2 separate regions of the Homo sapiens genome follow, and region 1 is linked to region 2. Evidence: fine-mapped expression QTL. A gene starts in region 2. The other region holds a variant in brackets. All regions are shown on one strand. Distances are from middle to middle. Region 1 overlaps TSPAN16 (tetraspanin 16). Region 2 holds the start of DOCK6 (dedicator of cytokinesis 6).

Evidence for each region. PIP is the estimated chance that this variant, and not a neighbour inherited with it, causes the effect.
Region 1: its variant is fine-mapped to the expression of DOCK6 in T cells (TOPMed, PIP above 0.99).

What each region holds. Positions count from the first base shown.
Region 1 is chr19:11,314,367-11,319,735 of GRCh38, forward strand. It overlaps TSPAN16 (tetraspanin 16), which reads left to right. Exons shown (of 7, transcript NM_001282509.2): 7 at 1,425-1,601. The coding sequence ends at 1,472. The region is part of intron 1 of TSPAN16-AS1 (TSPAN16 antisense RNA 1); the gene reads right to left. Among named protein-coding and RNA genes, the nearest start is that of TSPAN16-AS1, 4.3 kb to the right of the region's middle. The variant C/G (reference allele first, on the strand shown) is at 2,173.
Region 2 is chr19:11,259,767-11,265,091 of GRCh38, forward strand. DOCK6 (dedicator of cytokinesis 6) reads right to left here and starts at 2,758. Exons shown (of 48, transcript NM_020812.4): 1 at 2,631-2,758. The coding sequence starts at 2,674. RefSeq lists silencers at 2,333-2,472, 2,553-2,612, 2,683-2,842.

The DNA.
Region 1 (5,369 bases), 55 kb after region 2:
ATAAAAAGTGCTCCATGCCCCTGGTTGCCCAAGAAATTTTTCCTACATGCTTTCTGCACATTGACTACCAACATAGTAGTGTCTTTTCTGCAAATCGCCACTAACTGAGACAAGGCTCTATCTTACCAGTCTGGGATATTTATTTCTTTGGGGTAATTTTTTTCATTGTACAAATTTATAATATTGAATATGTACTTGTAAACTATACAACACCTTCCTCCCCAAGGATCCCAGCAGGAAACAGCATTCAGCCCCCAGATGGTCCATTTAAGATGTTTTCAGGGGCCTCCTTGCAGAGGGGTGACAGGGTTCAGTGAAATGAGGCGCCCAGGAGCTAAAGACATGGGGAACTTTTATTTCTCCTAGGCCTGAAGGCTCTAGAAAGGGCATGAAGAGGGTAGGAGCCCAGAAGGAGGGGAAGAAAAGAGGGAGGAAGTGGGGAAGGAATACCCTACCATTCTCTCCTCCCGCTCACCCGTCTTCTCCCGGTGCTTCCTATTGGCCAAGCCTAACCGGAAGTTATGTGGCAGTGGAGTCTGGGGAATATGGTCCGTAGGGCTCCGGGGAGGGCCGAAGTGGAGAGGATGGGCCAGGCGCGGTAGTTCACGCCTGTAATCCCAGCACTTTGGGAGGCCGAGGCGAATGGATCACCTGAGGTCAGGAGCTCGAGACCAGCCTGACCAACATGGTGAAACCCCATCTCTACTAAAAATACAAAAATTAGCCGGGCGTGGTGCTGGGCGCCTGTAATTCCAGCTCCTCGGGAGGCTGAGGCAGGAGAATTGCTTGAACCCGGGAGATGAAGGTTGCAATGAGCCAAGATAGTGCCACAGCACTCCAACCTGGGCAACAGAGTGAGACTCCTTCTCAATAATAATAATAATAATAATAATAATAATAATAATAATAGGCCAGGCGCGGTGGCTCACGCCTGTAATCCCAGCACTGTGGGAGGCCGAGGTGGGCAGGTCACGAGGTCAGGAGATCGAGACGATCCTGGCTAACACAATAAAACCCCGTCTCTACTAAAATACAAAAAAATTAGCCAGGCGTGGTGGCGGCCGCCTGTAGTCCCAGCTACTCGGGAGGCTGAGGCAGGAGAATGGCGTGAACCTGGGAGGCGGAGCTTGTAGTGAGCCAAGATCCGCCACTGCACTCCAGCCTGGGCGACAGAGGGAGACTTCATCTCAAAAATAAATAAATAAATAAATAAATAAAATAATAATAAATAAAAAATAAGTGGAGACGAATGCACTGTAACCACAGTGGCTCCAACTTAGCCCAGGCGGTTCTTCAGCCATCTGTAAAACCCTGCCCCTCGCCTTTCTGGAACAGGATGCTCCCCTTGTCCCCGTAACTCCAGTATGATTCTGGTTTGGAGGTCTCTAGCATTGGATCCATGTTTCTTTCTTCACGCATTTCAGTTGCCAGGAATTCTTGCCACTTTGCTGCTGTTTATCAAGCTGGGCTGACACCCAGGCCTGGAGAAGATGAGACACCTGGGCCCATCTGGCTGCTGGAGATTCAGTCTCAGTTTTATTTCTCTGTGGCACTCACTGCTTCTGGAGGGGAGACTGTTAATAAAAGATTTGGGAACCCCCTGTCCAGCCTGACTTCTTTCTCCTTACTTTCATTTTTGGCAATGATTTTACCTCAAAATGCCTGAATGAGAGACTATGCCCTTTCTCATACAACTTTCCTGTTTTGTAAATTATTCTTGGTGTGTGTGTGTGTGTGTGTGTGTGTGTGTGGTTTTTTTTTTTTTTTCCTTTTGAGAGAGTCTTGCTGTGTTGCCAGGCTGGAGTGCAATGGCACGATCTCAGCTCACTGCAACCTCCACCTCCGGGGTTCAAGTGAGTCTTCTGCCTCAGTCTCCCGAGTAGCTGGGATTACAGGCACTCGCTACCATGCCCAGCTAATTTTTTGTATGTTTAGTAGAGATGGGGTTTCACCATGTTGGCCAGGCTGGTCTTGAACTCCTGAGTTCAGGTGATCCACCTGCCTCGGCCTCCCAATGTGTTGGGATTACAGGTGTAAGCCACTGCACCCAGCCAGTTTTGTAAATTATTCTGTGAAAAATCTAGAACTTTCACAAAAGCCAAGAACATCCATCCAGAGAAACATACACATCACCCAGGTTCAACAATGCAAAGATTGACATATTTGCTTTAT[C/G]AATCCCCTTTTTACCCTTGATAAAGTATTTTTTCTTTTTTAAATTGACAAGTCATAATTATATATATTTATAGGGTACAATGTGATGTTTTGATATATGCATACAATGTGGAATGATTAAATCAAGCTAATGAACATATCTATAGGCTCACTTATCATTTTTTTGTGGTGATACATCTGTGATCCCAGCACTTTGGGAGACTGAGGTAGGAGGATCGCTTGAGCCCAGGAGTTTGAGACCAGCCTGGGCAACATAGCAAGACCCCCCCCGCCTTTTTTTTTTTTTTTTAAGATGGAGTCTTGTTCTGTCACCCAGGCTGGAGTGCAGTGGTGTGATCTCGGCTTATTGCAACCTTCCCACATTCTGGGTTCAAGCAATTCTCCTGCTCAGGCTCCCATGTAGCTGGGATTACAGGCGCCTGCCACCACGCCTGGCTAATTTTTTGTATTGTTAGTAGACATGGAGTTTCACCAGGCTGGTCTCAAACTCCTGCCCTCAAGTGATCCGCCTGCCTCGGCCTCCCAAAGCGCTGGGATTACAGGTGTGAGCCACTGTGCCTGGCCTGACTCCATCTCTACAAGACAACAACATCAACAAAACCCTCCAAAAAACAAACCTCAGACAATGTCATTTCTTCCCTTTATATTTCAGTACACATCTCTAACGATATGTTCATTTGCGTTCACAACCATAACACCGTTATCACATCTAGGATAATTAACATTGCTTGTTTGGCATCCCTTAATACCTAGGCCATTGTTGAGTCTTCCTAATTGGCTCAAAACTTTTTTAAAGGGACAGGGCCTCACTCTATCACCCATGCTGGAGTGCAGAGATGTGATTGTTGCTCAGGGTAACCTCTAACTCCTGGGCTCAAGGGAGTCTCCCATGTCAACTTTCTAAGTACATGGGACTACAGGCATGCGCCACCACACCCAGCTAATTTTTTTTCTTTTTTCTTTTTTCTTTTTTGAGACGGAGTTTCGCTCTTGTTGTCCAGGCTGGAGTGCAATGGCACGATCTTGGCTCACTGCAACCTCAGCCTTCCGGGTTCAAGTGACTCTCCTGCCTCAGCCTCCTGCCTAGCTGGGATTACAGGCATGTGCCACCATGCCTGGCTAATATTTGTATTTTTAGTAGAGACGGGGTTTCATCATGTTGGCCAGGATTGTCTCGAACTCCTGACCTCAGGAGAATTGCTTGAACCCAGGAGGTGGAGGTTGCAGTGAGCTGAGATCATGTCATTGCACTCCAGCCTGGGCGACAGAGCAATACACTGTCTCAAAAAAAAAAAAAAGTGTGAAATGCTTGGGGAGTGCCAGATGTTCTGGGCTTACTGCTTTCTTTGTGGTTTTGGTTATTTACCCTGTTCCTCTTGTCCACATATTTCCTGAAAAGCATGAGTTACCAGCCCTGGCTGTAGATTAGAATCACCTGGAAGCTTTAACAAACTACCTAAACCTGAACCACAGATCCTGATCTTTTATTATTATTATTATTTTTTTGAGACAGAGTCTCGCTCTGTCCCCCAGGCTGGAGTGCAGTGGCGCGATCTCGGCTCACTGCGAGCTCCGCCTCCTGGGTTCACACCATTCTCCTGCCTCAGCCTCCCGAGTAGCTGGGACTACAGGCACCCGCTACCATGCCCGGCTAATTTTTTGTATTTTTATAGAGATGGGGTTTCACCGTGTTAGCCAGGATGGTCTCGATCTTCTGACCTCGTGATCCGCCCCCCTAGGCCTCCCAAAGTGCTGGGATTACAGGTGTGAGCCACCACACCCAGCCTAATTTTTTGTATTTTTAGTAGAGACGGGGTTTCACTTTGTTAGCCAGGATGGTCTGGATCTCCTGACCTCGTGATCTGCCCGCCTCAGCCTCCCAAAGTGCTGCAATTACAGGCGTGAGCCACTGCGCCCGGCCAGATCCTGATCTTCTAATTTAATTGAACTGGGCTGTGACGTGGGTCTGGGGATGATCCTAGTGGTTTTTAAGATATAGTCATGGTCACAGCTGAGCATCAATGAACTCAGGGGTTCATTCAATGACCATAGCATCCTGAACCAATTCTTTCAGAAGAGGTTGCAAAATGGTGGTTTATCTAATTCCTTTTCTTTTTCTTTTTTTTTTGAGACAGTCTTGCTCTGTCGCCCAAGCTGGAGTGCAGTGGCACGATCTCAGCTCACTGCAACCTCTGCCTCCTGGTTTCAAGCGATTCTTCTGCCTCAGCCTCCTGAATAGTTGGAGTTACAGGTGCCCGCCACCACACACGGCTAATTTTTGTATTTTTAGTAGAGACGGGGTTTTGCCATGTTGGCCAGGCTGGTCTGGAACTCCTGACCTCAAGTGATCCTCCCACCTCAGCCTCCCAAAGTGCTGGGATTACAGGCGTAAGCCACTGCCCCCAGCCAGAAATAAACTTTTTTACCCACACTTCTGACACCAAACATGTGGGGTTTTCCACACCAAGTAATTCTCCAATTCTCTGTGGACACCCGCTGGGTGTTCTACAATTCAGTTCTGACACCAATTACCCAGAGTTGGTGTGTGACCCCACAGATTTAAGGGCTGAGTCCCACAAAACTGAGCTTCCCTCACTTCAGAGGTATCAAGTATTGAGTTCCCAGGTTACCCATATTTCTGTCCAATGTGGCTACAAAGTCAGGGGGGGTTCTCACAAGCCCCCTCCCTTTCAGGTTTGATAATTTGCTAGAATGACTCACGGATCTCAGGCAAGTGTTTTACTTACTACTCCTGATTTATTATAAAGGAGACAACTCAGGCCAGGCGCAGTGGCTTATGCCTGTAATCCCAGCACTCTGGGAGGCCAAGGCGGGCGGATCACGAGGTAAGGAGTCTGAGACCAGCCTGGCCTATATGATGAAACCCCGTCTCTACTAAAAATGCAAAAGTTAGCCGGGCGTGGTGGCACACGCCCTGTAATCCCAGCTACTCCGGAGGCTGAGGCAGAAGAATCGCTTGAACCGGGAGGCGGAGCTTGCAGTGAGCCGAGATCGCGCCACTGCACTCCAGCCTGGGCGACAGAGCGAGACTCTGTCTCAAAACAAACAAAACAAAACAAAACAAAACAAAAAAACAAAAAAAGGAGACAACTCAGGAACAGCCAAATGGAAGTGATAAAGAGGGCAATGTGTGGGGGATGGTGTGCAGCACTTCCACACCCTTTCTTGGGGAGGGG
Region 2 (5,325 bases):
GAGACGGAGTTTCACCATGTTGGCCAGGCTGGTCTCGAACTCCTGACCTCAGGTGATCCACCTGCCTCGGCCTCCCAAAGTCTGGGATTACAGACCTGGGCCGCCGCGCCCGGCCTTTTTTTTTTTTTTTTTTTTGAGACAGAGTCTTACTCTGTCACCCAGGCTGGAGTGCAGTGGCACGATCTCTGCTCACTGCAACCTCCACCTCCTGGGTTCAAGTGATCCTCCTGCCTCAGCCTCTGGAGTAGCTGGAAGATTGTCTAATATTCGGGTTAATCTGGTATTTGTGGAATAAATGACTGAATGGATGAACAGATGAATATAGGACCAGCTCTGAGTATGTAGACACCTGGGTGCCCAAGAGCGAAGTTGCTCTGGAAGCCCTGGGCCACTCCCTCACAGTTCACTAGGGCCCCAGGATCATTCTCTACTCTTACCCTGAGCTCTACAGTATCCAAAACCCCTCTTTCTCACTTGAGTAAAAACCAGGACCCAAGGACATACAGACCAAAATGCAAAGAAACAGACAGCAAGCTGGGCGCAATGGCTCACGCCTGTAATCCCAGCATTTGGGAGGCCGAGGCAGGAGGATCACTTGAGCCCAGGAGTTTGAGGCCAGCCTGGGCAAGATAGTGAGATCCCGTTTCTACAAAAGGTTAAAAAGTTAGCTGAGTGTTGCAGCATACACCTGTAGTCCCAGCTACTTGGGAGGCTGAGGCAGGAGGATCACTTGAGCCCGGGAGATTGAGACTGCAGTGAGCCAAGGTATCACCACTGCACTCCAGTCTGGGTGACAGAGCAAGACCCTGTCTCAAAAAAAGAAAAGGAAAAAAAAAAAAAGCCTGGGTGCAGTGGCTCACACCTGTAATCCCAGCACTTTGGGAGGTGGGCGGATCACCTGAGGTCAGGAGTTCGTGACCAGCCTGGTCAACATGGTGAAACCCCCTCTCTACTAAAAATACAAAAATTAGCTGGGTGTGGTAGTGGGCGCCTGTAACCCCAGCTACTCAGGAGGCTGAGGCACAAGAATCGCTTGAACCCAGGAGGCGAAGGTTGCAGTGAGCCAAGATTGTGCCATTGCACTCCAGTTTGGGTGACAGAGCGAGACTCTGTCTCAAAAAAAAAAAAAGAAAGAAAGAAAGAAAAGAAAAAGAAAAGGAAAGAAAAAGAAACAGACAGCAATAATGTTTGCAGCCTCAAAGACGCCAAAGGTCTAAGACATTTTGAAAGCCAATTTACAGACAAAGATAATGATAGAACATAAAAATTGCCCAGCCATTACGCCCCAGCCACCAAGTCTCATCCCTCCTCTGCTGAGAACTCCCCATGGCTCCCACCTCACCTGGGGTCCAAAGTCAAAGTCCCTTGCACAGCCCACACGACCCTGTACATTCTACTCTTACTGTCCCCCTCCAGCTCTCTGTTCCTGCCTCAGGGCCTTTGCACAAACCCTTCCCACTCTTTCCCCCCACAAACTGGCCTCGATCGATCCCTCTCTCATCTCCTTGAGGTTTTTGCTCAAAGGCACCTGCTCATCCAGGCCTTCCTGACCCACCTCCCGCATCTCAAGCAGCCCCCACCCTCCCATCCCCCTTCCCTGTCTTCTTGTCCCTACAGCACTTGTCACTGACAGGTAATCTACTCGATCAGGCTTCTGGTCTCTCTCCGCCACTATATCCCAAGAGGGGGATCTTTTGTCTCCATAAGACCAGGGCCCAACCCACAGGGCAGCTCTTTCACCTGGGGGCAGTCAGGACAGGTCCCCCGGGGAGAGGATACCTGAGCTTCTGAACGCACCCTTGTCGCAAAGACCCCCCGCCAACTGGGGGCGAGGCTTTTCAGCCCCAGAGAGTCTGATATACCCCTCCCAGGCTGTGACTCTCACAATCCCCAGTGGCCACGGAAATGGATCCCCCAGCGCCTGGGGCCTGTCCCCTCCCCCGTCTGCCCACCAGCTGGTTCTGTCCCCAGCCCCCACTCCCTCCATTCAATCACCCATCCATCCCCAGCGCGGTCCAGCCCGTGACGGGAGAGCCTGAAGCAGAAGGTGGGGGGGCGTCCACAGCTGTCCCCCTTCCCCCCCCCCGACAGCTGGGCACTGGACCCTGGAGGGGGAAGGGCACGGGAAACTCCTCGAGGGGTTTCAAACGCCACCAAGGAGCCCATCTCTGTCCCCAAATCTCAGAGCCTGGAGCCTCCCTGCCCCAAACCAGGCACTGAGGAAGGAACAGAAAGTCCGGCCCACCCCGATCTCCGAGAGCGCGGGGACAGTGAGGGGCCGAGAGGCGGACGGGGAGCGCAGGGAGTTCAGGGGGCGCCCGTCATCCGCATCCCCACGCCACCTCCTCCGGGAAGCCCTCCGGACACACCCCCGCGCGTCACGGAGGCAGAACGGCAGCCGCCATCGCGCTCCCAGCCCCGACGCGACTCCCATCTGGGACCCCCGCCGGGACCCCCGCGGCCCTCCCCGCCTTCTCCCGCTCCCAGCCCCGGCCGGAGGAAGCTGGCGGGACCCGGGCCGAGGCGGAAAGGGGTTGAATTGGGGGCGCCCGGGCGGGGAGGGTCGCACCGCCCCGGGGCGGAGCCGGGCCACGTGGGGGAGGTGGGAGGGGGCCCCGCGGCCACACTACCTGTTGATCTTGTGCGCGAAGGCGCGGCGCTCGGAGGCAGCCATGGTCCTCGCGTCCCGCCGCCGCCGCCCCGGGCCCCGGCCCCGCCGCCGCCGCCGCCTCCCGGTTCTGGGCAGCCGGGGCGGGGCGGGGCCGGCGCGGGGGCGGGGCCCTTCCGGGTGGCCCGGGCCGCTCCGTGCTGCCCCTGCAGGCCGGAGGGGTCGCCTGGAGTCCTGGGGGCTGGGGAAACTGAGGCTGGGGACGGAGAGGAGGCCCCGGGATCCAGGCTGGGCGGGCCCCAGACTCCCGGGCTGGGGGGACGCTCTTTCTACCCTAGGAGAAGGGCTGGGGAAACTGAGGCTGAGGAGGGAAGTTAGGGAGAGGAGGCGCTGGGACCCAGACTGGGGGTGCCCCAGACTCCCGAGCTGGCGGGGGCGCTCTTTCCACCCTGGGAGCTGGGCTGGAGAAACTGAGCCTGAGGAGGGAGGGAGGGAAGGGAGGCGCTGAGACCCGGGCTAGGTGGACCCCAGGCTCCCGGGGTTTAGTGGGGTGGTCTTACCACCCCAGGAGCAGGGCTGGGGAAACTGAAGCTCAGGAGGGAGGGAGGGAGGGGAGGCGCTGGGACCCAGGCTGGGTAGGCCCCAGATTTCCGGGGTTTGGGGGGCGCTCTTTCTGCCCTCTGACTCCTGGCTGGAAAACAATAACGATGTTCATGTATCTAATAATCATACCTGTAAGTATAATCGTGGCCGTGCATGGTGGCTCATGCCTGTAATCCCAGCACTGTGGGGGGCCAAGGCAGGAGGATTGTTTGAGCCCAGGAGTTGGAGACCAGCCTGGGCAACATAATGAGACCCCGTGTCCACAAAAAATGCAAAAATTAACCAGGCATGGTGGTGTGTGCCTGTAATCTCAGCTACTTGGGAGTCTGAGGGAGGAGGATCGCTTGAGCCTGGGAGGTCAAGGCTGCAGTGAGCTGTGATTGTGCCATTTCAATCCAGCCTGGGTGACAGAGCGAGACCCTGTCTCAAAAAGTCTAATTGCTAAGATGTCATTGAGCCTGGCCCTGCAATTCACACATGCAGAAGAAATTATTGTTTTCCTCCTTTTACAGATGAGTAAACTGAGGCACAGAGGTGTTCGGGTGCTTGCTCAGTGTGACTCACAGGGGTCTCCAGCGCCTGCATTGTCCGTGCTCCCAGTCTACAGCATGGGAGTCAGAGGAGCCTGGCTAGGCACTGGAGTGCTCGGAGATGTGCCCCAGGTCCAGGTGGTGGGACCTGAGTGAGCCAGTTTGGGAGTCTAGACTTTCGGGGCCGCCTCTACCAAGAGGAAGAGGTGGGGATGTCTTGGTTAATCTATGGTCTCAAATCTCTCCCCACTGGCCTCTCTCCCAGCACTGCTGCAGCATTTTTAGAGAATTCTCCAGCCGACACTCCCCTCTGGAGGAGCTCACCCCTTTCTCACCTGCATGCCTCTGCACCGGCAGGTCCTTCCTCCTGGACAGCCCTTCTTTCCCTGGTCAGCAAATGCCCCAGGGAGAATTTGAGGTTGAATCAGACAAGGCCGTGGCTCTGCCTCAGGGCCTTTGCACGTGCTGTTCTCATTCCCATCTATGGGTTGCTGGCATTTTATCCTCTATTATTTATTTATTTATTTATTTATTTATTTATTTATTTATTTATTTATTTTGAGGTGGCATTTCGCTCTTGTTGCCCAGACTGGAGTGCAATGGCACAATCTCGGCTCACCGCAACCTCTGCCTCCCAGGTTCAAGCGATTCTCCTGCCTCAGCCTCCCGAGTAGCTGGGATTACAGGCACCCACCATCACACCTGGCTAATTTTTTGTATTTTTAGTAGAGACGGGGTTTCACCATGTTGGCCAGGCTGGTCTGGAGCTCCTGACCTCAGGTGATCCACCCGCCTCGGCCTCCCAAAGTGCCGGGATTACAGGAATGAGCCACATGCCCACCCTGAGTCACCATGCACCCCCGAGACACAGTTTCTTGCCTTGCTGCCCAATGAATCCATGTCAGACCTTGAACCCACAGGAAAGAGGCCTGGATTGTAGGGGAACCCCCAAACCCTGCCAGTCAGACGCAGGATAGCATCCTGCTAGTCAGGCCGCAGTAGGGCTGCTCACAGCCTGGCATGTGACATGTGCACACAGCCCACGTGCCTGCCCGGAGTGGTCCAGCCACTTTGGCCAGGTGGAGCTCCGCCCATCACTCCCCGCCATGCCCCACCAAGTGTCCCCGCCTTGCCTCTCAGGCTGCTGGGAGCTAGGCTGGGCAGGAAATATGCAGATGAGCGAAGATTTGCACATTTCTTAGCCTAGTTCCAGTCCAGCCCCCTTTATATCCGGTCTCCCAGCTTCCTTTCTCATCCTCCCCCCAGCTTGTTCCTGCATCAGTGGCCAGGAAGAGCCTGGGAACACCTGCATCACTTCAGTTCCCTCCTCTGTTCAGAACCTTCCATGGCTCCCACCTCACTCAGGGTAAAAGCCAAAGTCCTCCCACAACCCGCCGGGCACAGTGGCTCCCTGTCATCCTGGCACTTTGGGAGGCCGAGGCGGGTGGATCACTTGAGGTCAGGAGCTCCAGACCAGCCTGGCCAACATGGCAAAACCCCGTCTCTACTAAAAATACAAAAAATAGCCGGGCATGGTGGTGGGAGCCTGAATCCCAGCTACTCGGGAGGCTGAGGCATGAGGAT